Regions from separate parts of the Homo sapiens genome. Here regions 1 and 3 are each linked to region 2. Evidence: fine-mapped expression QTL. A gene starts in region 2. Each other region holds a variant in brackets. All regions are shown on one strand. Distances are between the middles of the regions.

What was found. PIP is the estimated chance that this variant, and not a neighbour inherited with it, causes the effect.
Region 1: its variant is fine-mapped to the expression of SIVA1 in monocytes after LPS (Quach 2016, PIP 0.91).
Region 3: its variant is fine-mapped to the expression of SIVA1 in tibial nerve (GTEx, PIP above 0.99).

What each region holds. Positions count from the first base shown.
Region 1 is chr14:104,954,827-104,963,000 of GRCh38, forward strand. It overlaps AHNAK2 (AHNAK nucleoprotein 2), which reads right to left. Exons shown (of 7, transcript NM_138420.4): 2 at 2,788-2,846; 3 at 2,584-2,682; 4 at 1,762-1,863; 5 at 657-807; 6 at 131-315. Among named protein-coding and RNA genes, the nearest start is that of AHNAK2, 19 kb to the right of the region's middle. RefSeq lists an enhancer at 2,202-2,371 and a cis regulatory region at 2,287. The variant T/C (reference allele first, on the strand shown) is at 3,619.
Region 2 is chr14:104,749,123-104,757,296 of GRCh38, forward strand. It overlaps SIVA1 (SIVA1 apoptosis inducing factor), which reads left to right and starts at 4,025. Exons shown (of 4, transcript NM_006427.4): 1 at 4,025-4,197; 2 at 6,508-6,702; 3 at 7,482-7,638. The coding sequence starts at 4,080. LOC107987209 (a long non-coding RNA gene) reads right to left here. Exons shown (of 3, transcript XR_001750915.3): 2 at 7,284-8,174. RefSeq lists enhancers at 3,051-3,140, 3,844-4,345, 3,991-4,040, 4,051-4,120 and a silencer at 3,521-3,890.
Region 3 is chr14:104,434,882-104,443,055 of GRCh38, forward strand. No RefSeq gene overlaps it. Among named protein-coding and RNA genes, the nearest start is that of C14orf180, 140 kb to the right of the region's middle. RefSeq lists enhancers at 107-972, 6,148-6,930. The variant C/G (reference allele first, on the strand shown) is at 3,180.

The sequences.
Region 1 (8,174 bases), 210 kb after region 2:
GGTGCCAGTCCAAGAAGCCTGGGGCCCTGGCCCAGGGACAGATGGAGTGGGAGTGCTATCCCCTCCCAGGCTCAGCCAGCAGGGTAGTGAAGCCAGCTGGGGCCCTGCCCCCCGGGCATAGTGGTCTCACCTCCTTCTCCTTGCCCTGTGGGCCGTGCTGGGCATCGCTGGAAGCCCACTCTTCATCCTGTGGGGCAGGGAGCTGCCGTCTGATTTTGAACTGAACCTTGTACGGCTCTGAATATTGAAGGATTTTGAGAGCATCTTCATATTTTATGTTTTCAAAGAACACGGTTGTACTGAGCAGCTGATCCCCTAGACCAAGAAAGAGCAGCCCCAGGGCCGGGTGTGTGAATGAGACGGGGTCTGCTGTCTTGCCTTGGCTGGCGAGGAGGGTCCCGGGGACATGAATAGGGGGAATCCCACTGAGTCTGCCCCACCAGTCCCCCACTGAGTGCCTCAGGCACAGGCAAGGTGGATGGGGTCCCCCATTTTACTAGATGCAGTGGGTGATCCCAGCCTCAAGCTGTTGAGCAGAGGCGTGAGGAGGTCATCCTAAGCTCCAGGTGTGGTTCTTACCCCTCAATACCCCCCTCCAGGTCCCTCCCATCCTGGTGGGGAGAATGGTGACCCCAGGGATGGAACTGCCATGGCACCTTCTCTCAAGTTAAAAAGCTTGGCGGCTGAGGAGTCCTTCAGCACTTGCTTGACGAAGATCCCCTGGTCCCCACCACCTGTGACACTGTAGCCACTGGCTCCTGCCTCCACCTCTGTCTTCAGCGTCACCTCTGTTGCCTCCTGGACAGCCTGGAGCAGAAGCACATCAGGGCCATGGTGAGCATGTGCCAGTCCCACCATAAGCATCCCTGCTGGGGCCTGTGTCTCCAGAGGATGGGCACCCCACCATCCTTTCCATCAGCCCAGACAACACAGAGCAGAGTAGGGTACCCACCAGGTGGGCTCAGGTAGCTGTCTCTGAGCTCTGGAGGAAGCCAGCTGGAACCTGCCAGAACTCTTGTCCCCACCCCAACCTGCCAGGACTTAGGCACAGCCTGTCCATGCCACCAGGCCCAGCAGGGCACCAGGAGCAGCGCAGAACGGATTCTGCTTTCCCTGTGGCCAGTTTCTCTTTTTCAGCTCCTTCATGCATTCTTCACAAACGCGTGAAGCACCAGTTGTGTGCAAGGCACCTGATGCTCAAGACAAGGAAGCACAGCAATGCCAAGGAAAATACGGGACATTGGGTGCAGCCTGCGAGACCTGGGACAGGATGGGGCCTGTGTCCTGCAGAGCTCTTGGACTGCTGGGGCCTCCAAGGAAAAAAACTAGTTGCTTAAGAGGCAGAGTGCCCTCATCATTGGGTGCTAGCAGAGTCTAGCACCTTCCATAGTTCCATGGCCTGGGTGCTGACTGGCCTTTTCAGCCCCACAGCTTGAATATGCAACAGACACCAGCACTGCCCCATTGCACGGAGGAGAAAATCGAGGTCTGTACAGCCAGGTCTACCTGGCCAGGAGCTTGGCTATGCATCAGACTCCACCCCAGGGAGGGGTGGAGAGGGCCAGGACCAGATGTAGCCTTCTGGAGCCCCTGCCCTTCCCCAGGCCTGACAAGGGGGACAAGAACACCCCTCCTCCCCAGGGCACGGGGCACACTGCCAGCCTCTTTGCTCCTCCCCTGCCTGCTCTGACCTCGGACTCTCTGGCTGGATCCCTTGAGGACCGACACACCTCTGTGACCCTCAGCTCCTGCTGTACCCACCTCTGGACGACTCATCCTGAAAAATGTCCGTGAGTCCCCTGAATCTCGCTTCCACCAGGATCTCCGTCTCCCAGCAGAACCTTGCCTGCCGGGGGCGTCTTCCTGCAGCCACAAGTGTTGGGAGTTAGGCACCTGCCCCAGCTCAGGGACAGGGAGGGGCACAGGTAGGCTGGTGCCAGACCAGGAGCCCTCCCTTCAGAGGGGCCCAGAACTTCCAACACACAGCTGTGTGCAGAGGCAGCCGAGTTCCTCCAGGCACATCCACAGAGAAAAGGCAACTCTCGGCCTTCCTGCTTCCCGACAGGGCCCAGCCTACAGCCCACAGCACCCACCCTACAGCCCACAGCGCCCATAGGGAAGCCCCACAGCAACTGGAGTTTTGTATGGAGGGAGATAAGAAATTCAAATTGTACAAAAATGAATCCTTTCATAGACATGCCTCCTCTGATCCCTTCCCCGAGTCCTTGTCTCCAGAGGTAGCCATGGGGCCCTGTCCCCAAAGACAGCATGAGTGTGTTACACAGGTGCAGGGATGCACACACCCTGTGCCCCTGAAACACAAACACAGTAACATGAGGCCTGTCCCCATCAGCCCATACGCATGCTCACAAGAGCTGCAGGGCACCTCCATCCCACTGTGCCCTGGCCGGCCACAGGGAGGGACCCAAGGGCACAGAGGAGTCTGAGAGGACATCTGAGTGGGCACTGCCCAGTGGGCAGCGGGGCAGGGCAGCAAGGTTGAACAGACATGCGTGAGTTGCCCACACAGGGCGATGCAGGAGGAGACCTGGGTGCCTGTGGGGCTCTGCCCAGCAGGCTCACCTGGAGTCCAAAGTCGGCAGCCTCAGTCGTGTATTCGTAGACAGGTGAAGACCCCTGCGGCCGTGGTCGAATGCCCTCATCCGCAGGCCCTTCAGTCACCTGACGGGAGAGAATCCAGTTATTTTTGCCACTCGGTTCTCCCAGGGCCCAGGGAGAATGGGGGCAGGGTATGAGGAGGACACACTTCCTCCTGCTCTCACTTACAGAGTGGTCATCTTCCGTTTCTGCACCTGGCTCCCCGGGCTGCAGCTGACGGCCGGACACTGCAGAGAGAGTGGCTGTCAGTGGAGACAAGCAGGCTGGGGGAGCAGATCGGGGCCCGGGGGAGGGAGCCAGGACTGTATGTACACTGTGGAGGTGTCATAGTCCTTTCCTGGACACTGGATCGGAGAGCAAACTCAGGGGCTGGGGGAAGATCTATAGCCAATGGGCTGGAGAGGCTGAGGCATCACGTCAGGTAGCAGTGAATTGAGACTGGACTTATTCCAAGTTGGAACAGATTTAGTCCAAGAAAGTGACTAAACAAACACAAGGCGTTTGTTATTGTATAACCACACCCTGGGAGGATCAGAATCCAGAGCTGCCAGAATATATTATCTAAAATGTCCAGCAGCCACCAAAAAATTACAAGTTACGCGAAGAAACAAGAATGTATGGTCCATACTGAGAAACAAAGCAGTGAATGGAAAGTGTCTCTAAATGTCTACTAATGCTGGGTTTAATACAGACTTCAAAGAAACTATTAAAAGTTTGTTCAGGCCGGGCACGGTGGCTCATGCCTGTAATCCCAGGACTTTGGGAGGCTGAGGCGGGTGGATCACCTGAGGTTGGGAGTTCGAGACCAGCCTCACCAACATGGAGAAACCCCATCTCTACTAAAAATACAAAATTAGCCAGGCATGGTGGCACATGCCTGTAATCCCAGCTACTCAGGAGGCTGAGGTAGGAGAATCACTTGAACCTGGGAGGCGGAGGTTGTGGTGAGCCGAGATTGTGCCATTGTACTCCAGCCTGGGCAACAAGAGTGAAACTCCG[T/C]CTCAAAAAGAAAAAAAAAAGTTTGTTCAAAACACAAAAACAAATCATGTTTAAAAAATTAATGGAAAATATGTTAACAATGGCTCAATGAAGAGAGAATCTCATAAAGAAATAAAACTTATTTTTTAAAAGCAAGCAAAAATTCTGGAGTTGAAAATTTACTACTGGGGTTCACCAACAGATTTGAGATACCAGAAGAATTATCAACTTGTAGATTAATATAAATTAACCAATTTGAAGAACGGGGTCAGGGGGAAGATTGTTTGAAGAAAAACAGAGTCTCAGAGCATTAACCATAAGATAAAGAGGCAGAAGAGAGAGTTGAAGAAGTGATAGCTGAAAACAATCTGCAGAATCCAAGAAGCGCGACCAGACCTAAGCAGGAGAAACACAGAGATCCACACCTAGAAACGTCACAGTCAAAATGCTTAAGAGAAAGGGCCCCATCACATAATAAGGGCACAAAAATACAACTAACACCTGAATCACATCAAAACCATAGAAGCTACGAGAAAGTGGAACAATATATTCAAAGGGCTGAAAGAAACTGTTGTCAACGAAGAATTTGATATCAAGCAACCTATCCTTCCAAAAATAAAGGCAAAATAGTCTGGGCATGCTGGCTTATGCCTGTAATCCCAGCACTTTGGGAGGCTGAAGTGCGAGGATTGCTTGAGCCCAGAAACTCAAGGCCAGCCTGAGCAATATAGTAAGATCTCATCTCTACAAAAAAAAATTTTTTTTTTGAGACGGAGTCTCACTCTGTCACCCAGGATGAAGTGCAGTGGCACGATCTTGGTTCACTGCAACCTCCGCCTCCCAGGTTCAAGTGATTCTTCTGCCTCAGCCTCCCGAGTAGCTGGGACTACAGACACGCGCTACCATGCCCAGCTAATTTTCGTACGTTTAGGAGAGACGGGTTTCACCATGTCGGCCAGGCTGGTCTTGAACTCTTGACCTCGTGATCCGCCTGCCTCAGCCTCCCAAAGTGCTGGGATTACAGGCATGAGCTGCCGTGTCCGGCCCAAAAATTTTTTTAAAAATTAGCGGGGCATGGTGGTGCATGCCTATAGTCCCAGCTGCTCAGGAGGCTGAGGCGGGAGGATAGCTTAAGCCTGAGAGGTTGAGGCTGCAGTGAGCTGTGATTGCACCACTTCACTCTAGTCAGGCAGAGCAAGACTCTGTCTCAAAAAAATAAAAATTTAAATTTTAAAAAAAGGAAAAATAAAGGCATTCCCAAATGAACAAAGACTTGGAAATGTCATTGCTAGCAAATCTGCCTTACAAGATATACTAAAGAAGTCCTTCGGACTGAAAGGAACTAATACCAGACACTAAGTCAAATGCACAGGAAGAAATGGAGAATGCAGAAAATGGTAACTATGCAGGCAAATATAAAAGACTCTATGAATATATATTGTCCTCATTTTATTTCTTAACTTCTTTCAAAAACAGAGGATTGTATAAAGCAAGGATTGACAAACTTTTCTTGAAAAAGGCAATATAGTGGATATTTTAAGCTTACCAGGCCACATGATCTCTGTTGCAACTCTGCAGCCATAGTACAAAAGCAGCTATAGATTATAGATAATATGTAAATAAATGAGCAAAACTGTTTCAACAAAACTTTACTTGTAAAACAAAAAGGAGGCTGGATTTAGAAGACAGACAATCATCTGTGAACCACTTATATAAGGCAACAATTCTAACACCATATTGTTAGGATTATAACATATATAGATACAGTATATACGTGACAATAATAGCAAAAAGGAGTAGGAGGAGAGGGTATACAGTCAGCCTCTCATATCAGTGGTTTCTGTATCCTGAGTTCAATGAAACTTGGGTCAAAAATGTTCTCCCAAAAATTGCACCTGTACTGAACACGTGTAGACTTTTTTTCTTGTCATTATTCCCTAAACAATATAGTATACCAGCTATTTACATAGCATTTACATTGCATTAGGTATTATAAGTAATCTAGAGATGATTTAAAGTATAGGGGAGGGAAGATGTATGTAGGTTATTTGCAAATACTACATTGCTTTATAGAAGGGACTTGAGCATCCATGAATTTTGGTATCTGAGGGAGGTCCTAGAAGCAATCCCTCATGGATGCTGAGGCACAAGTGTACCCTGGACCAAAGTTTCTATAATTTACCAGAATTAAGCTGGCATTGCCTGGGGCTGGGAGTGGGAAGGGAGATTGATTGTAAATGGGGTTGAGAAAATTTGGAAGGTGATGGAGGTCTTCCAGAACTGGATTGTGGTAATGTTTGCACAACTCTATAAGGTTAGTAAAATGATTGAATTGTACATTTACAATGGGTGAGTTCTATGGTTTATAAACTGTACCTCAATGAAACTGTAAAAGAAAAAGGTAATTAACTGTATAAAACAAAAATAAGTCAGCACGGTGGCTCACACCTGTAATCCCAGCACTTTGGGAGGCCAAGGAGGGCAGATCACTTGAGGCCAGGAGTTTGAGACCAGCCTGGCCAACATGGTGAAACCCCTCTCTACTAAAAATACAAACATTAGCTGGGCAGGGTGGTGCACGTCTGTAATCCCAGCTACTCAAGAAGCAGAGGCAGGAGAATCACTTGAACCCAGGAGGTGGAGGTTGCAGTGAGCTGAGATTGTTCCACTGCACTCCAGCCTTGGTAACAGACCAAGACTCTGTCTCCAAAAAAAAAAACAAATAAAATAAAATGTATCTTAGAATTTTACAAATATAGAAGTAAAGCATATGACAGGATGGGGATGGAGTGCAAAAGTTGCTGTTGTGGGCCGGGCACGGTGGCTCACGCCTGTAATCCCAGCACTTTGGGAGGCCGAGGCGGGCGGATCACGAGGTCAGGAGATCAAAACCATCCTGGCTAACACAGTGAAACCCCGTCTCTACTAAAAATACAAAAAAATAGCCGGGCGAGGTGGCGGGCGCCTGTAGTCCCAGCTACTCGGGAGGCTGAGGCAGGAGAATGGCGTGAACCCCGGGGGGCGGAGCCTGCAGTGAGCCGAGATCGCGTCACTGCACTCCAGCCTGGGTGACAGCGAGACCCCATCTTAAAAAAAAAAAAAAAGTTGCTGTTGTGAAGATCTTACATTATACTTAAAGTAGGACAATCTTACTTGAAATTATACTGTAATAAGTTAAATATTCAGGGTATAAAGCATAATGCAACCATTAAAAAAATAAAAAGATGTATAGGTAATAAGCCAATAGTGGAACCAAAATGGAATGCTAGGCTGGGCACAGTGGCTTGTGCCGTAATCCCAGCACTTTAGGAGACCGAGGCAGGAGGAACACTTGAGGCCAGGAGTTTGAGACTAGCCTGGGCAACACAGTGAGACCTCATCTTTAGAAAATATTTAAAAATTAGCCATGCATGGTGGCGCACATCTGTATTCCCAGCTACTCGGGAGGCTGAGGTGGGAGGATCACTTGAGCCCAGGAGGTTAAAGCTGCAGTGAGCCAAGCTCATGCCACTGCACTCCAGCCGGGGCAGCAAAGCAAGACCCTGTCTCAAAAAACAAACAAACCAAAAAACACCTAGATCTCCTTTTTGAAACACTGCAGTAAAAACTGGCAAAACTGAAAGGAGAAATAAATCCACAATTATTATACAATAGGAGATTCTAACACTCTTAGGAAATGATAACCTTACAAAGTAGAATAGGGGAAGATACAAAACACTTGAAGTACCCATCAACCAACGAGACCAAACTGGCACTGGGAGAACACTCCTGACAGCAGCCGGTGCATGCTGCTCTCAGGTGCACAGGGGACAGTCACTGAGACAGGCCCCATGCTGGCTCAGAAACCTGTCTTGACGAATTTAAAATAACTTCAGTCATCCGAGTTCTCTTCTCTGACCCCCAGTGGAATCAAGACAGTGCGGCAGAAACACAAATCAGTGAACAGAAAACAAAGTCCAGAACAGCCCCACACTTACATGGCCAATTCATTCTTGTTTGTTGGTTGGTTGGTTTTGTTTTGAGACAGGGTCTCACTCTGTCGCTCAGGCTGGAATGCAGTGGCACAATCTCAGCTCACAGCAACTTCTGCCTCCTGGGTTCAAGCGTTTCTGGTGCCTCATCCTCCCAAGTAGCTGGGATTACAGGCATGCGCCATCATGCCTCACTAATTTTTTTTTTTTTTGGTACTTTTAGTAGAGATGGGGTTTCACCATGTTGCCCAGGCTGGTCTTGAACTCCTGGCCTCAAGTGATCCACCTGCCTTGGCCTCCCAAAGTACAGGCGTGAGCCACCATGCCCGGCCAAATTCTTGTCAAAGCAGCCCAGTTATTCCAACAGAAAGCAAAGTCTTTTCACCGAATGGTCCTGGAACAGCTGGGTATTTACTGGGAAACCAATAAACCTGGACCCTTCCATCCCATCACTCATGAAAATGAATTTGAAATGAATCATAGAGGGGAATGTAAAACCAAAAACTATAAAACTTCTAGAAGAAAATATAGGAGAACTTCTTTAACACCTCGAGGGCAGCAAAGTTTTCTTAGGATACAGAAGGTAAGGATCATAGAACGAAAACT
Region 2 (8,174 bases):
GATGCCTGCCGGCTCGAAATCACACCCCACAGGAAATGCACTTGAGTAACAACACCCTGGACCTGAATACAGATTTGGTGCACAGGCCGCTGGCTCGCTCCCCACCATCTGGCTGGGCCTGCCTGTTCCCCGTGGCTCCCCCTCCCCACTGGCCTGTGAGGAACGCTGCCTCCTCGCTCCCGCCCGGTTGAGTCACACACCTGCTCTGCAGTTTCATGTGTTCTGCTGTGCTGCCTCCTCCAGCTCTCACCTGACCCTTGCACCCAAACCTCACTCTCCTGGTCAGGACTCTCCCAGAGAGACCATCATGATAGGAATGAACTGATCACTGCTCAGACAAAAGCCACAGGCTGCCTGCCAAAGCCTAGAAGCAAGCTGCTGGTGAGAGGAATGCCAGCACAGCTGGATACACAGGCCTGAGGCCATCAGCCAGGGTCAGGAGGCATCCCACGAGAGCACACACTGTAACCCCATGCCCACCGCCCCCAGAGCCCCATCAGGGAAGGGCCAAAGTTTACAGCCACTCTCCAGGAGAGACCTCAAGACGAATTAGAGGAAAACTATGACAATGATTTTGTTTAATGATAATTTTCCTTTTTCCTAGCACTCTGGAAAGCTGCCAGTTTCTTTACAAGTTAACCATCAATCTGATGCAGGGCAGGTGAGCCCCAAAATTGGGGCTTAACCCTGGAGGGTTCATGGCTTCACCCAGGAAGGCATTCAAGGGTGAGCCAGTGGTGTTAGCCAGGCAAGTTTGTTAAAGCAGCAGAATCCTACCCAGCAACCTCTGAGGAACCGGCATGTGGCCTGGGGGACAGCCCCACTCCATAAGCTGCCCGATGTTCTGTATCTGTCCACGATGGTGATGAGACCCTAGGAGAGTTGCAAGTCTGAACACAGGGAAATCTTTAGAAATCCCCACGATCCATAAGATTGAAAACAATCCTCCTCTCTGAGAACTTCATCTATTTCTGGGATAAACCAAATCTGTGTTTAGTCACACGTGACTCCAACTGAGTAACTTTCAAGTCATTTCCCTAAGGCAGAAAAAATTCTCCATTATGCCAGCAAAGTGGCAAGGAAGAGCCAAGAATGCTTGATCCCATCCCCACCACAGGGAACCCTGCACGGCAGGAGGAGAAAGGACATCTAAGCTGGAGACTGGTAAGGTTTCAGCCACCCATGGCTAGGAAAGCATACACTGCCTCTGAGGGGGCGTGGGCAGCTGCAACACGGGAGTCACGTGGGAGGGGTTTGCGGGACTCCAGGCATCACCTCTTCACACCGGAGGCAACACCGATGGAGTCGTGAGAACATAGTCCAGGTGTGTCCAGAATTGGTGGGTTCTTGATCTCACTGACTTTAAGAATGAAGCACTAGGTCCTCACAGTTGACTGTTACAGTTCTTAAAATTGTTATGTCTGCAGTTTGTTCCTTCTGATGTTTGGACGTGTTTGGAGTTTGTTCCTTCTGGCAGACTCACGGTCTTGCTGGCTTCAGGAGTGGAGCTGCAGACCTTCACAAGGAGTGTTACAGCTCTTAAGGCAGTGTGTCTGGAGCTGTTCATTCCTCCCGGTGGGTTTGTGGCTTTGCTGGCCTCAGAAGTGAAGCTACACACCTTCCCAGTGAGTGTTACAGCTCATAAAAAGTGTGGACCCAAAGAGTGAAAGAGCAAAGCCCCAAACATGTGGCAGAACACCAACACGTTCCCACTGCCTGCTCGGGCGGCCTGCTTTTATTCCCTTATCTGGCCCCACCCATATCCTGCTGATTGGTCCATTTTACAGAGGGCTGGTCTGTTTTACAGAAAGCTGATTGGTCCGTCTTGACAGGGCGCTGATTGGTGTGTTTACAATCCCTGAGCTAGACACAGAAGTTCTCCAAGTCCCCACAGAGCACTGATTGGTGCATTTACAAACCTTGAGCTAGATACAGGGTGCTGATTGGTGTCTTTACAAACCTTGAGCTAGACACAGAGTGCTGATTGGTGTATTTACAGTCCCTTAGCTAGACATAAAGGTTCTCCAAGTCCCCACCAGATTAGCTAGATACAGAGTGCTGATTGGTACATTTACAAACCTTGAGCTAAACACAGAGTGCTGACTGGTGCGTCCACAATCCCACAGCTAGACATAAAGGTTCTCCAAATCCCCACCAGATTAGCTGGATACAGAGTGCCCATGGGTGCATCTACAAACCTTGAGCTAGACACAGGGTACCGATTGGTGAGTTTACAAACCTTGAGCTAAACACAGTGCTGATTGGTGTATTTACAATCCCTTAGCTTGACATAAAGGTTCTCCAAGTCGCCGCTAGACTCAGGAGCCCAGCTGGCTTCACCTAGTGGATCCCACACCGGGGCTGCAGGTGGAGCTGCCCGCCAGTCCCGCGCCGTGCGCCCGCACTCCTCAGCCCTTGGGCGGTCGATGGGACCGGGTGCCGCGGAGCAGGGGGCCGCGCAAGAGCCCACGGCAGGGGGGAGACTCAGGCATGGCGGGCTGCAGGTCCTGAGCCCTGCCTCGCGGGGAGGCAGCTGAGGCCCGGTGAGAATTCGAGCGCAGCGCCGGCGGGCCGGCACTGGTGGGGGACCCGGCGCATCCTCCGCAGCTGCTGGCCCGGGTGCTAAGCTCCTCACTGCCTGGGGCCGGTGGCTCCGATTGCGGGGCCCGCCGAGCCCACGCCCACCCGGAACTCACGCTGACCCGCAAGCGCCACGTGCAGCCCGGGTTCCCGCCCGCACCTCTCCCTCCACACCTCCCTGCAAGCTGAGGGAGCCGGCTCCGGCCGCGGCCAGCCCAGAGAGGGGCTCCCACAGTGCAGCGGCGGGCTGAAGGGCCCCTCGAGCGCGGCCAGAGTGGGCGCCGAGAGCGAGCGAGGGCTGCCAGCACGCTGTCATCTCTCACAGGGCGAAGCCCACGCCACAGGACGGGTCGGTTCTGTACCCGCCGGGGCAGGGGAGAGCCGCCTCTGGTGAGCAGAACCCCGGAGAAGGGACGACGCGGGTGCACCTCGCGGCATGGGGACACCAAGTCAGACGAACCCGCTGTGCAAGAACATTTTCCACACAGCGGCGCATACCCCCGCCCGGGGGCGCTCGGCAGCCGCACGCGGCCCTCAGAGCGCAGCCCCCACACGCCTTTACTTCTGGAAGGCGGAGACCGCCACAGTGAGGAGCTAAGCCAGCTGAGGCAACACAGAAAAACCCCCGTTCCTACCCAAAACCAAAAAGCGGGGCGCGGAGGCGCGCGCCTGCGGTCCCAGCTACCGGGGAGGCCGAGAAGGGAGGATCGCCTGAGCCCGGGAGGCGCAAGCTACAGTGAGCCGAGACTGCCACTGCACTCAGTCTGGGTGACAGAGCGAGACCCTGTCTCTAAAGGGGAAAAAAGAGCTAGGAAGAAGCGGGCTGCCTCTTAACTTCGGAGAAGTAAATGAGGAACTATAACCAGTGTCTACCGTTTAGGAACCAAACAAAAGCTGACAGGAATCCCGCCACCGACCCAGCCGCCCCAGACTTTGCCCTGGCCTATCCCGCGCCGCTCCTCAAACTAGACCCGCCCCGACGTCGCCCTGGCCTATCCCACGCCGATCCTCAAACGAGGCCCGCCCCCGATGCACAAGCTCCGCCCTCGTTGCACCGTCCTGACCCTCGGCCTCGCCCCCGCCCCCTGGCTCTTCCCGCGCAGCCGAATGCCGCGACCTGGCTCCCACCCTTCGTCGCTTCGCGCCGCATAGGAACCCCGCCCCTAGTCTCTCCTCCCGCCTATCCTGAGCGGCGCGCGCACAAATCTCTCCCACGGACCCGCCCACCCTGATCCTCAACCTGGCCCCTGGCCTTTCCCGCGGCGTCGAGTCCAGTACACCGACGCACGAGTCCCACCCCCGATCTCTCCCTCGGCCTATCCCGCGCCGCTCCGCGCAGGAGTCCCGCCTCCCACTTCGCCCGCAGCCTATGACGCGCCGCGTCGCTCCCTCTCCTCAAACCCGCTCTCGCCCGCGGATGGGCGCGCAGCTGTGACGTCACGGCGTCGTTGGTAAGGGGCTGGCGGCCGGGGAGCTGCGTAGCTCCCGGCCCCGCGGCCATGCCCAAGCGGAGCTGCCCCTTCGCGGACGTGGCCCCGCTACAGCTCAAGGTCCGCGTGAGCCAGAGGGAGTTGAGCCGCGGCGTGTGCGCCGAGCGCTACTCGCAGGAGGTCTTCGGTGAGTGTCGGGCGGGCTGCCGAGGGTCCGCTGCGTCGGGGCCTGGAACGGGCCGGGCCTCAGCGTCCCCTCTGAGGCCTGAGCGGGGGGCTGGAGGGCCCTGCTTTCTGGCCCCGCGTTCCCGGAAGCTGGGAGGCCGCGGGGACACAAGCTGGCCACGCCCAGGGCTGGGGTCAGTGAGGGGGATGTGAGGACCCCAGCGTTCGCCCACCCTGTCCAACAGCCTGAAAGAAAAGGGTCCCTGCCCCTAGCCCCCGCGCCCTCTTCCACGATCCCGGTTAGTCGCCGCCCTGCAGTGAGCGGCACCCGCCTGGTGCTTTCTCAGGACTGTCCCGTGCAGGATGTCCTGGGAGAGGTTGGGGAGCGGGGCGTCCTGCATGGAGTCAACCCGAAGAGTGCCCCTCCTGTCCCAAGAGGTATTCATGGAGCGCGCGGCCCTGCCAGGCACGGCGGCTTTCTCGGGAGACCAAAGGCAGGCAAGACAGATGTGCCCCGTCTCCCGGGAGCTCCCCAGCCTAGTTGGGGAGACCAGCAGGAGGAGTCGCCACAGGTGGTCGGGGCAGGCACAGGTTTGTGCAGGCGCACCTGCAGGGATGGCACGGAAGGCTTCTTGGAAGAACAGTCTGAGCGGAATCCTGTGGGGGCGAGTAGGAGTTAGCCAGGCAGAGGAAGGGAAGGAAGAGGGCGAGGCAGAAGCCAGGCAGCAGGAGAGCGAAATAGGACTCCGTGTGGCTGCAGTGTCCAGTTCTGGGTGGGATGTGAGGGCAGTGAGCTCCCAGGCCTTCTCTGGCTTTCTCCTGTGGATTTCAGGCGTGTTGATCTTATTGATCATCACTCTGACTGGGGTGATTAATACCCTGGGGCAGGTAAAAAGTGGAGCTTACCTTGCCTAGTGATTGGGACACAAAGTCTGCACCTGTAGAGCAGTTAGAGGATGACCCGGGGTGTGTGATTTACCTGGTGCCGCTTGTGCCTTGGGAATGAGGGAAAGACTCTGCCTCCCGAGGTTCCTCTGTGCGGTGTCTCCAGTGTGCTAGGGCTGTGAAAGCGAGTGCTATTCTGGGCCATGGGGAGGTAAGGGGAATGATGCCGTGGGAACTGTGGCAGGACCGCAATCGTGTGCCCTCTCAGGACAGTTGAAAAATTCAAACACTGTGCAGGCAAGAAGAGGAAGATGGAAATGGGGCCTGGCTCAGTATGGCCCTTTATTCTTCCCGAGTGTCCTGACCTGGGCGTTGGCAGGTGTGTGCCACTCACCGGGTCAGGTCAGGGAGGTCTGCTGGGTGCAGTGGGCCTTCCATGGTAAATGCAGGACACCTACTTTGAACTGTGTGACAGTTTCCAAATTCCAGGCCACAGCTGTTACCCTGATCTCTTAACCTCGAATTGTCCACAAGGCCTTGAGGACAAGGATTAGCCTCACCACGTGTCTGTCCCATTCCTTTCCCCTTATAGATGGGGGAAGGTGTGGGGGGCCAGGAGGAAGGTGCAGGGTGTTGTGGGCTGGCATCAGCTACTCCATGTGAGTTACCCTGTCACTATTATTGCTGCCCACTTCATGTAGAGCCACATAGAGTTTCTGGGATCTCTGCCTTTACTGTGTTATGGTGAGGTGCAAAACAAAAAACAAAGCATTTCTGGGTCTGGCCCTGGGCATCTGATTTTTCAAAGCTCCCCAGGTGACTGAACTGTGGCCTGATGGAAAACCACTGCTCCCAGGGATGGGTGGGTGTTCTAGAACAAGAGGTCTGGAAGGTTCTGGGATGCTTGTCTTGCCAGCAACTCTGTAGCAGGTGAAGGGGGTGTGCTCTGGCCAGAGGCTGTAGGCCCAGCTCCAAGCCTCTGGCTGCTTCCTTGGCAGGGGACGAGTTTTGTGAATTAGTGCTCCACAGTGCAGAGCTCCCTCTGTGCATTCCACAGAGCCTGGTTTCCAGGTGGGGAGTGCTGGGGAAGCAGAAAAGGGAGAAAGGGGACAAGCTTAGTGAGGCGAGGCCAGCCGTGAATTGCAGAAAATGAGCCGAGTGATAGGAGAGGGAACCCTTGCATCAGACACAGGTGGGGCTGCAGGGCCAGAGCCTTCCTGGAGGAGATGACAGCTAAGCCAGGTAAGGAAAGGACGCACAAGCATTCTCAGCATAGAGGCAGAGCAGGACCCAGCTCGCCAGGGCACAACACAGGCTGGGGTTACTGGGAGACAGAGGGCACACAGGAGGACGATGGGGTTCATGTGAGGCTAGAAAGACTCAATGGCCATGCAGGGGCTTCGTTGGTACACAGTGAAGGACGTGAGAATGATTTATCTTCCCCCAGAGAAGACCAAGCGACTCCTGTTCCTCGGGGCCCAGGCCTACCTGGACCACGTGTGGGATGAAGGCTGTGCCGTCGTTCACCTGCCAGAGTCCCCAAAGCCTGGCCCTACAGGGGCCCCGAGGGCTGCACGTGGGCAGATGCTGATTGGACCAGACGGCCGCCTGATCAGGAGCCTTGGGCAGGCCTCCGAAGCTGGTGAGTGGCACCAGCAGCCCTTTGTGGCTGTGGCACTGAGGGCAGGTGGTGGCACGAGCATTTTTCTTGATTTGCAAGGTCAGGCTTTTCCTCCCTGGGTAAGCAGGACTCTGACCCAGAGCTTGGCCTTCTGGCTCAGAAGGCTCCTGTTATCAGGAGGTCTCACATTCAAGACTGGAAGTTGTTAAACAGCTTCTAAGTACTGGGCCAAAAAAGCAGCAGAGACTCCCCGGGTATCCCGTCTGCTTTCCGCCTGCAGCCCCCTCAGATAGTCCCACAAGGCTGGAAACATGCCAGTCCCATCCCTATGCAGTGTGGGGTCTCAGAGCATCACCTGTGTTGCTGGTTAGAAATGCAATCCCCGACTCTACCTCAAGTCTGGTTGGTGTGTCTAGGAGGAGCCCAGGCACCTCTTTGTTAACCAGTAAGGCAGTGGGCCACACTGAGACCCAGATGGGACACATGGAGTTCTGACAAGCAACAGGGGAAGAATGGTCCTTCCAGCACTAGCCTCCAGGTAGCAGAGGGACCTGGTAAGGGAAAGAGCACTGAACTTGGAGTCAACTACAGGCATATCTCACCTTGGATCTCTGTAGTAAAACGGGGGTCCTGTGCACTGTACCAGGCTCACGGGTTGTCAGAAGGATCCAGTGTAGGTGGGGATGGGGTAGGCAGGTCAGAGCCCTCTGCCCTCAGGTATGCATGGAGGCAGGTAGCCCGGCAGTCCCGGAAACTCCAGTCTCCTTGCAGCCTGACGGCTTGGCGTTTCTTCCTCACAGACCCATCTGGGGTAGCGTCCATTGCCTGTTCCTCATGCGTGCGAGCCGTGGATGGGAAGGCGGTCTGCGGTCAGTGTGAGCGAGCCCTGTGCGGGCAGTGTGTGCGCACCTGCTGGGGCTGCGGCTCCGTGGCCTGTACCCTGTGTGGCCTCGTGGAGTAAGTACTTCAGTCCCTGGAGCTGCTGAGATCCCATAGCCCCAGCAAGCCGTGATGGGGGACGGGTGGGTCACCCATGTGGGCCCAGAACACACACGTGTGGCCCCTGATGCAGTGCCATCTGGCATTGCCTAACGGGACATGGTGGCAATAGATGCTTGGCCCAACTTTAGTGGTTAGTAATCCTCTCTAAGGGAAAGCTGAACCTCACAGATGACCTGCTCTGTATCCGGCTCTAGTCCCTGTCTTCAGCCACTTCCTGTTCTGATCTTTGAGCACCCCCACCTCCTCCTCCTCTGGTCTTTGAGCCCCCCCTCCCCCCGTCCGAGGAGCCCCTGGTTGGTGACACAGGTGCACACCGCAGCTTCACCACAGTCATGCGTGCCGTTTGGTTGTAGACCCTCTCAGGCAGGAAGTGGAGTGTTTGTGTAGTCTCCCATTTGTGGGTGGGTTTGCTGCAGCTGGCTGGATCCCGTCCTTACTCCTAAGGTGGGGAGGGGCGTTCTCACCCTAGGGGCTACTCACCTGGTGGATGG
Region 3 (8,174 bases), 310 kb before region 2:
CAATGCCCAGGAGCAACGTAAGGAGGCCCCCAGGGTGCAAGGGAGGGCCAGGGGCAGGGCAGGAGGTGGGAGTCTTGGCCAGGAACATGCTGTAGGGCTAGGAACTACCCGGAAAAGGGTGAGTCTCAGGGGCTTGGACCCCCTCCCGGAGCAGAGGACTCCAGGGTCCCCAGCTGTGTGCCCTTCACTGTGAGGCAGTGTGAGTGCTGGCCCACTCACGACATGCCCAGACCTGCAGAATGGGAAAGGCCTTCCTGGTAACGGGGCCTCCAAGAGCAGGCAGGTGGCCTGTGAGCGGCATTTCCAAACATCAGACTTCGCAGGGCTGACTTGATGGCTACCAGCAAGCAAGTCCCACCATGGTTCCTGTGGGGCAGTCGGGGTGCTCAGGGAGGTGGGCTCCAGGCAGGGGACCTGGCCCAGCCTCACTGTGACCCCCGGAGGCCCAGCAAGGGGTGACTAGTGGGCACAGTGCCTTGGAGTGGGAGGAGGAGAAACCCTAAAATGAGGCCCACGCCCCACAGCCGAGTGGCTCCCTGGAGCCAGCCCTGGCCCCGTCGTGCCCCAAGAAGGCCTGGCTGGCCAGGGCCTAGGGCTCCTGTGGGGTTGCCAGCACCACAGGGTCAGTACAGGCTGTCATCAGGCAGTCCAGCCACCCTGAGGGCAGGTGCTGGGGAAGGACCCTGTCCCACTCCCTCCATCACCTGTGCTGGGGCCACTGGCAGTCATAGGAGAGCAGAGCAGGCCCAAGGTAGGCGCCAGACATGGCGCCCTTGCAGCCAGCGTGTCCACGCCCATCCTCAAGCCGAGCCTGGTCACCAGCAGTGAGAAGGGAGGGTAGGCCCACGGCCCTGGCTCCCCTAAAGTCCTGTTTCCACGGAACGATGGCCCAGCATCTACTCCTCCCCAGGACCCCCGCTAACTGGGAAGGGTCAGCCCCTGCCCTTTGCACTCTACCCCCAAGACATGCGGCCTCCTTGACCTCTCTATGCTCAAGCAAGTCTTGCCAGAACTAGGAAAATCTGCCCCAAGCTATGATCCCAGCTGGTGCAGATGGTCCCAGGCTGTGGTGGGCCCTGTTCTATTCCTCCCAACAACCCTGCAGTCCATCCCACAAATCGGGACAATGCGCTGGGACAGCTGACATTCCAGAGGTGTCCAGGGACGCACAGTGAATCCGTGTCCACTGGGGAGCGCCCACTAGGAGGGAGGAAGCCCAGGAGAGTGGGCGCTCGCAGGAAGCCCTCTGGCCTGGCCCGGTAGTCCTGGCGGGCTTCCAGGGGGAGGTGGAGCTGAGCCTCCTGCAGATGGGCGGAGCTGAGGGAGGCAGGCCTGGGGCAGTCGGGGTGAAGGCTCCAGGACTGCCAGGGCAGGAAACCACACAGGATGTTATGGAGAAGCAGGACGGCAGCAAGGGTGTACAGCTGGGCCTGGTCACTCTGCCAAGCCCCTAGCCCGGCGGCTGCCTCCCCGCAGTGGCCTGTTTTCTCCGCGGCCATGCCAGGAGACGTGCCGGGGGCTGACCGTAAGCTTCCCCCAGGAACTGCTGACACAAGCTCCTCCCACTGCATGCCTGTGTCTGGCTGGCCAAGCTCTGTCCCAGGACTTCCCTCCCACCAGGGCCCTGTTCCCATTCCCACCACAGGACCAAGGGGCCCTACTTAGCCTCCAGCCTCCCGGGCACCCCCTGGTCCTTACTGCAGCTGCGCTGGTGTCATTCTCCGTCCTGTGGGGTGAGCTCCAGCATGGCCGTGCGTGCTCTGCTGGGCAGTGCCAGGCCCGTCTCCACTGGCCTCAGACACGGCAAGGCTGGACCCCTACCCAGGGTCAGAGCTTAGGTGTGGGAAGGAGGGCGATGGAGCAGATAATGAGTCAATCAGACCTGGAGACGCTGGGGGCTGGTGAAGCACCAGGCAAGGAGTTTGGGGCTGCCCCTGGTACAGGAGCCGTATGGTCCTCACCCCACACCCCAGGGAGTCACCCAGCCAGGGCCAGGGGAGAGGCAGGTGACTGCCGTGTGCGGACTCTGCACTGGCTACTACACTGCCTGTGGGGCTGGAATGGGGGCTCCCAGAAAGGGGCTGGACTCCAGCCCCTGGAGGACAGGGTGTTAGGCAGCCAGCAGTGGGTGAACCCAAGGGCCAGGCCAGCACAGCACGGGGGCAGGGTGAGGGTCCCAGGTTGTGGCTCAGCCTGACGGGCCTTGCTGTGTAAGCTGCTCTCAGAGAGGGAGGTGGCTGGTCTCTTTCTTCCCTTGTGGAGATGCAGCCAGACAGGGGCCAGAGGCCCAATGAATTAATTATGGAGGGAAGGCAGCCCTGCTCTGAGCAGCGGGGCTCTGGATGAGGCGGTGGCTCCAGCTGCTGCAGGGCCCTGAAAGCACACTGCCCACCTCTGCCGGCCCCACCCAGCTGCAGGAGGCCCAGCCCCACCTGCCCTGGAAGCCTTCCAGGACTGTCAGGCAGGGGGATCTCCTGTAAGCGCCCACTCTCCTGGGCCTCTCCCCTCTGACAGGGCACTCCTGGGGCAGGTATCGCAGAGGGGGAGTTCCTGGGCCCTGGCCAGCTGCTCAGTGGGCAGCTGTGGGCCCTTCACTGGCTTCAGGTTCCTCTGAGCTGGTGCCCTCCCGCCTGCCTGTGGGTGGTGACACTGGGCTGGGACACATGAGTCCTCCCCACACTGGCCCCAGGGCACAATCAATACCCAGTGAGCCTTTCATTACCTGGCTGTTAATTATTCAGCGCTCACTGGGAAGGCCACATGCCACATCCGTGCCCTCACCCCGCCCCACCCCATGGGAACACAACAGAAAGTGCCTGGGAGTGGGCAGGGAGGAGACGCTAAGCACACAGTGAGGAGACCACCCCTGGAAGCCCCCAGACCACAGCAGAGAGAAAGAGAGAGACAGAAAGAAGTCTTCCCTGGTGGGTGAGAGCCCAGGCTGTTCTTCCAAGGGCAGGAGGGAGGGAGGCAGGGAAGGAGGAAGGAAGGGGGGCCTGACCACCCAGGCCAGCCCCGGGGGCCAGCTCCACTGGCATCACAGCACTTAATTTGCACACAGCGCAGGAGGTGAGGCCTGCCTGTCTGCTCCCTCCAGGCCCAAGGTCACAGTGAAGGGACGCAGGGGATCCAGGGCAGTTGGATGCCCCGCAGGTGGGGGATGAAGACTTGGCCAAGCC[C/G]CCTCAAGCGCCAAGCTCTTTTACTAGGCAGTGTCTAAAAGCCCCTTGTGAGTGTCCCACCAGCCACATCCATTCTGTATCCTCTAAGAAAGCAAAGCAAAGGAAAGAAAGAGGGGAGGGGAGGGCAGGGGCAGGTCCTGAGGGCTGCAGGCCCCCGGGTCCCAGGTGAGTTTGTGGGTCAGCTCTCAGAGGTGTGAACACAGCCTTGGTGGGGCACCCAGATGCAGACTCTGGCCTCAGACCAGCCCCCACCTTGTTTGCGTCCCCCAAGTCAAGTAGCCGTCCCCCTGGCATGGGCCATCCCATGGCAAAGGGGTTGCAGGGAGGAGGTGTCCCTGTGGCCTGTGTCGGGGGTACACGCCAGCACAGAGGCTGAGCAGCCCAAGCCACCAGCTCCAGATGCTACAGGTGGAGTTTGGATGTCGAAGCCCGAATCCCCAGTACACAGAACGTGATCTTATTTAGAAATAGGGTCACTGCAGATGTGATTAGAAAAATGAGGCCACCCTGCAGCAGGGCAGGCCCCTCATCGGACATGACAGTTGTCCTTATAAAAAGAAGGAATTTGGATACAAACACGTGCACAGGGCAAACACCGAGGGGGTGAGAGCAAGGGTCGGGGTGATGTTTCCACAAGCCGTGGACCCCAGAGACGGCCAGCAACCTCCAGAAACGAGGCAAGAGCTGTGGAACAAGTTCTCCCTCACAGCCCCGGAAGGACCCAGCCCTGTCAATGCCTGGATCCTGGACTTTCTGCCTTCAAAACATTGCGGGAAAAAATCTCTGTTGTTTAAGCCACCCACGATCTGGTACAGGCAAATCTCAGAGATATTGTGGGTTCCATTCCAGACCACTGCAATAAAGTGAGTTTTACAATACGGTGAGTCACATGAATTTTTTGGTTTCCCGGTACATATAAAAGTGACATTTTCACTGTACTGTAGTCTATTCAGTGTGCAATAGCATCGTCTAAAAAACAATGTACTTACCTTAATTAAAATACACTTCATTGCCAAACAATGCTAACGACCATCTGTGCCTTCAGTGAATCATCTTTTGCTGGTGAGGGTCTTGCCTCCATGTTGATGGCTGCTGTCTGATGGAGGTGGTGGGTGCTGAAGGCTGGGGTGGCTGTGGCAATTTCTTAGGACAACAGTGAAGCTGGCCTCATCAATAGACTTTTCCTTTCCTGAAAGATTTTGCTGTAGCGTGCGATTCTGTTGACAGCATTTTATCCACAGTAGTTCTTCTTTCAGCAGTGGAGTCAATTTTCCCAATCCTTGCCACTGCTCCATCAACTAAGTTTTGATGGAATATTCTAAATCCTTTGTTGTCATTTCAACAGTGTTCACTTTCTTTTCTCATCCGTAAAAAGCAACTCTTCATCCATTCGAGTTTCTTCATGAGACTGCAGCAATTCAGTCACATCCTCAGGCTCCACTTCTAATTCTAGTTCTCTTGCTATTTCCACCACATGTGCAGTTCCTGCTTCCCTGAAGTCTTGAACCCTCAAAGTCATCCATGCGAGTTGGAATCCATTTCTTCTAAATTCCTGTCAATGTTGATATCTCAACCTCCTCCCATTCTTCACGGCTTCTAGAATGGAGAATCCTTTCTGAAGATTTTCCATTGACTTTGCCTAGATCCATCAGAGAAATCACTGTCTATGGCAGTTACAGCCTTACAACATGTATTTCTTAAATAGTAAGACTTGAAAGTTGAAATGACTCCCTGATGCGTGGGCGGCCTGATGGATGTCGTGTGAGCAGCCATGAAAACAACGTTCGTCTCCTGCGAGTCTCCAGCAGAGCTCTTGGGTGACCAGGTCATGTCAATGAGCAGTCATATTTTGAAAGGAACCTTTTTTTTTTCTGAGCAGTAGGTATCAACGGTGAGCTTAAAATATTCAGCCAATCGTGCTGTAAACAGATGTGCTGTCATCCAGGCTTTGTTGTTCCATTTTCAGAACACAGACAGTCGACTTTGCGTAATTCTTAAGGGCCCTAGGATTTCAGGAATGGTAAATCAGCACTGGCTTCAACTTAAAGTCACCAGCTGCCTTCACTCCTAACAAGAGAGGCAGCCTGTCCTTTGAAGCTTTGAGGCCAGGCATCGACTTCTCCTCTCTAGCTATGAAAGTCCTAGATGGCATCTTCTTCCAATGGAAGGCTGTGTCTTCCACGTTGAAAATCTGTTGTTTAGTGTAGCCACCTTCGTCGATGATCCAAGCTGGATCTTCTGGATAACTCGCTGCAGCTTCTCCGTCAGCACTTGCCGCTTCACCCTGCACTTTCATGTTCTGGGGACACACATTAAGCCTCACGAACCGACCTCTGCCAGCTTCCAGCTTTTCTTCTGCAGCTTCCTCATCCCTGTCAGCCTTCACAGAACTGAGAATCAGGGCCTCGCTGGGGGTGAGGCTTTGGCTTAAGGGGAGTGTGATGGCTGCTTGGATCTATCCAGACCACTCGAGCTGTCTCCACATCAGCATTTTTAAAATTTTTAAAATTTCCTTATAGAACTTTTCCTTGGCATTCACAACTTGGCCAACCGGCACCAGATGCCCAGCTCCCAGCTTTCGGCCTGCATGGGGTCTCCACCTGCCTTCCTCACAGAGGTGAATCACTTCTAGCTTTTGATTTAAAGTGAGAGATGTGGCATGGTTCATGGTTTCCCCAGTTACACTAGTAACATCGAAGATCACTGACCACAGATCACCATAACATACAGTAATGATGCAAAAGCGTGCGATGTTGTGAGAATTACCAAAGTGTGACACAGAGATGTGACATGAGCAACGTGCTGTTAGAACAACAGCTCTGATTGACTTGTTCAACACAGGGCTGCCACAAACCCTCAATTTGTTAAAAAAAAAGTACAGTATCTGCAACGTGCAATAAAGTGAAGAGGAATAAAACAAGGTGTGCCTACACCTGGGTACGGCAGCCTAGGACACTAATGCCACAGACGTGGGAACTGAATGGTGGGGTTTCGAGTAGTGTTTTCTGGGATTTGTACCACCAACCCATCCCTTTCTGATTATACAAGGCTTCAGTGACAGATGGGGAAACTGAGGCATTGAGATTGGAAGAGATTCACCCACAACACCCACAAATCCATGGTGGGGCTGAGCCAGAGTCCCTAGCTCCCCTACCCCTGCCCATTCCCTATTCCGGGCCCTGTCCTTCCTTCCAGCTGCAACACAAAGGTGGTGTCCACCTTATTGATGGAGGGGCTGAGTCCCAGAGTCACCTGGTGCCTGCACAGAGGGAGACGGAGCTGGACCCCTGCCGGGGGTGGAGGCCCTGGACAACGGGCACAAGTGAGGCTCCAGACAGCATGGGAGACAGCCCAGTGGATGGTGGGTCAGGGAGGCTTCCTGGGGGAGGGTGCTCCAAGGGGCTGGAGGATGGACATGGTTTAGCAAACCTCGCTGGGGCAGAGACAGGAAGGACACGGGTGAGTTGGGAGCTGAGCAGGCAGGCACTGGGCATGGGGCAGCAGCTGGAGACGGAGGGCTCAGGGCTCACTGGCACCAGGATGCCTCAGCTGGAGAGGAACAGCCAGCAGGATGGTAGGCCAGGAGGACAGCAGGACAGCAGTGGCCACACCACGTGGCCCACCGTCTGCTGGATGCCTGGGTGGTACACAGGCTTCCACTCCGCGGTGAATGCCCAAGGCCCTTTTATTCATGTTCGTAATTACAGAATGCAGGGCGCATTATCCACAATTTGCTTCACATGAAAAAGCAGGACCATTTGCTGAAGCCCTTCCCCGTGAAGCTCAGCACGCTGCTATCAATGAACCCGGAATCCTCTCCCGGCTGGCAAATGGAATCTTTTCTGCTCCTGACAAAGAGGAATGTCCTCAAGGTGAATCTTTTCATTCCTGCTCCTTTCAGCCAGCAATTTTGGTGGCTGACAGATTCTTCTGTGAGAAATGGCGATTTGATAAAATGCAAAGTGGATGCTATCGAGCTCACGGGCTTTTCAGAGGAGTTGGGAGCCATGGCCCTGGGCTCCTTTCCGCCCTCCATCCGCCTCCTCTTGCTCCTCCAAGCCCAGCCTGTGCATCCTGGAAAGCCAGGAGCAGGACTCCAGCCCCAGCCGCCACAGCAGGCAGCAGCTGACCACTTCGAAGCTACCCGCCCCGACCCCACGAGGCCACACAGCCTCCCTCACCGGCTGGGCCTGGCTGAGACCCCGGACTTGGAGCAGGAGCAGACCTCAGCCAGTGCCCAGGAACTGCTAGGTGAGGCCTGCACTGGGCAGCAACACCCCCTCACGAGGCACAGGAGCAGGACCTGGGCCTGGGCAGGGCTGGGGGGCAGACACCTCTGTCCACAGCACATACGGCTTCTCCCGGCCACCCCGGGGTCCGTCGGAGAACCTGGGATCACGCAGGGCCCAGAACACGGCCAGCCAAGCCTCCTCCGAGCCCTCCTGGGAGTGCCCCCACCCTTACACCGGGCACGAGGCGACCAGAGTTTCAGGCCAGGGCTATGGAATGCTGTGGAGTCAGGCGAGTCTTGGGAGCAGGGATGAACACAAGCCTTCCAACCATGTGGCTTTGGGCAAGTGATCTCTCAGAACTTCTGTTTTCTCCTCCATAAAACTTGCATGGGTTTATCTGCCGCTCCCAGCCAACCACATGGCCAGCTCTGTGCTCCAGAAGCATCTGAAAACAGCAGTGGGATGAGGGAATGAAAGAGCAAATGAGTGAATGACGGGGAGCAGCCATGGTGAGGGATGAGAGCCTGGCCTGCCCTTCCCCCACTGACCCCAGGACAGGATGGAACTAGCCGTGGAAGGTGGATTTGGGAAGACCCAGCTGTAGGGGCCTGGCAAGGGCTCTTCCGGCAGTATCCGCACGGGTGAGGGAGTGTGGATGGTTGTCATTCAGGAATTACTCAGACTGCAGGGTGAGGGATCACAGGCAGCTCTGGGACCCTTCCACAGAGGTGGTGCCTAATCACTGGGCTGAGGCTGTGATTTG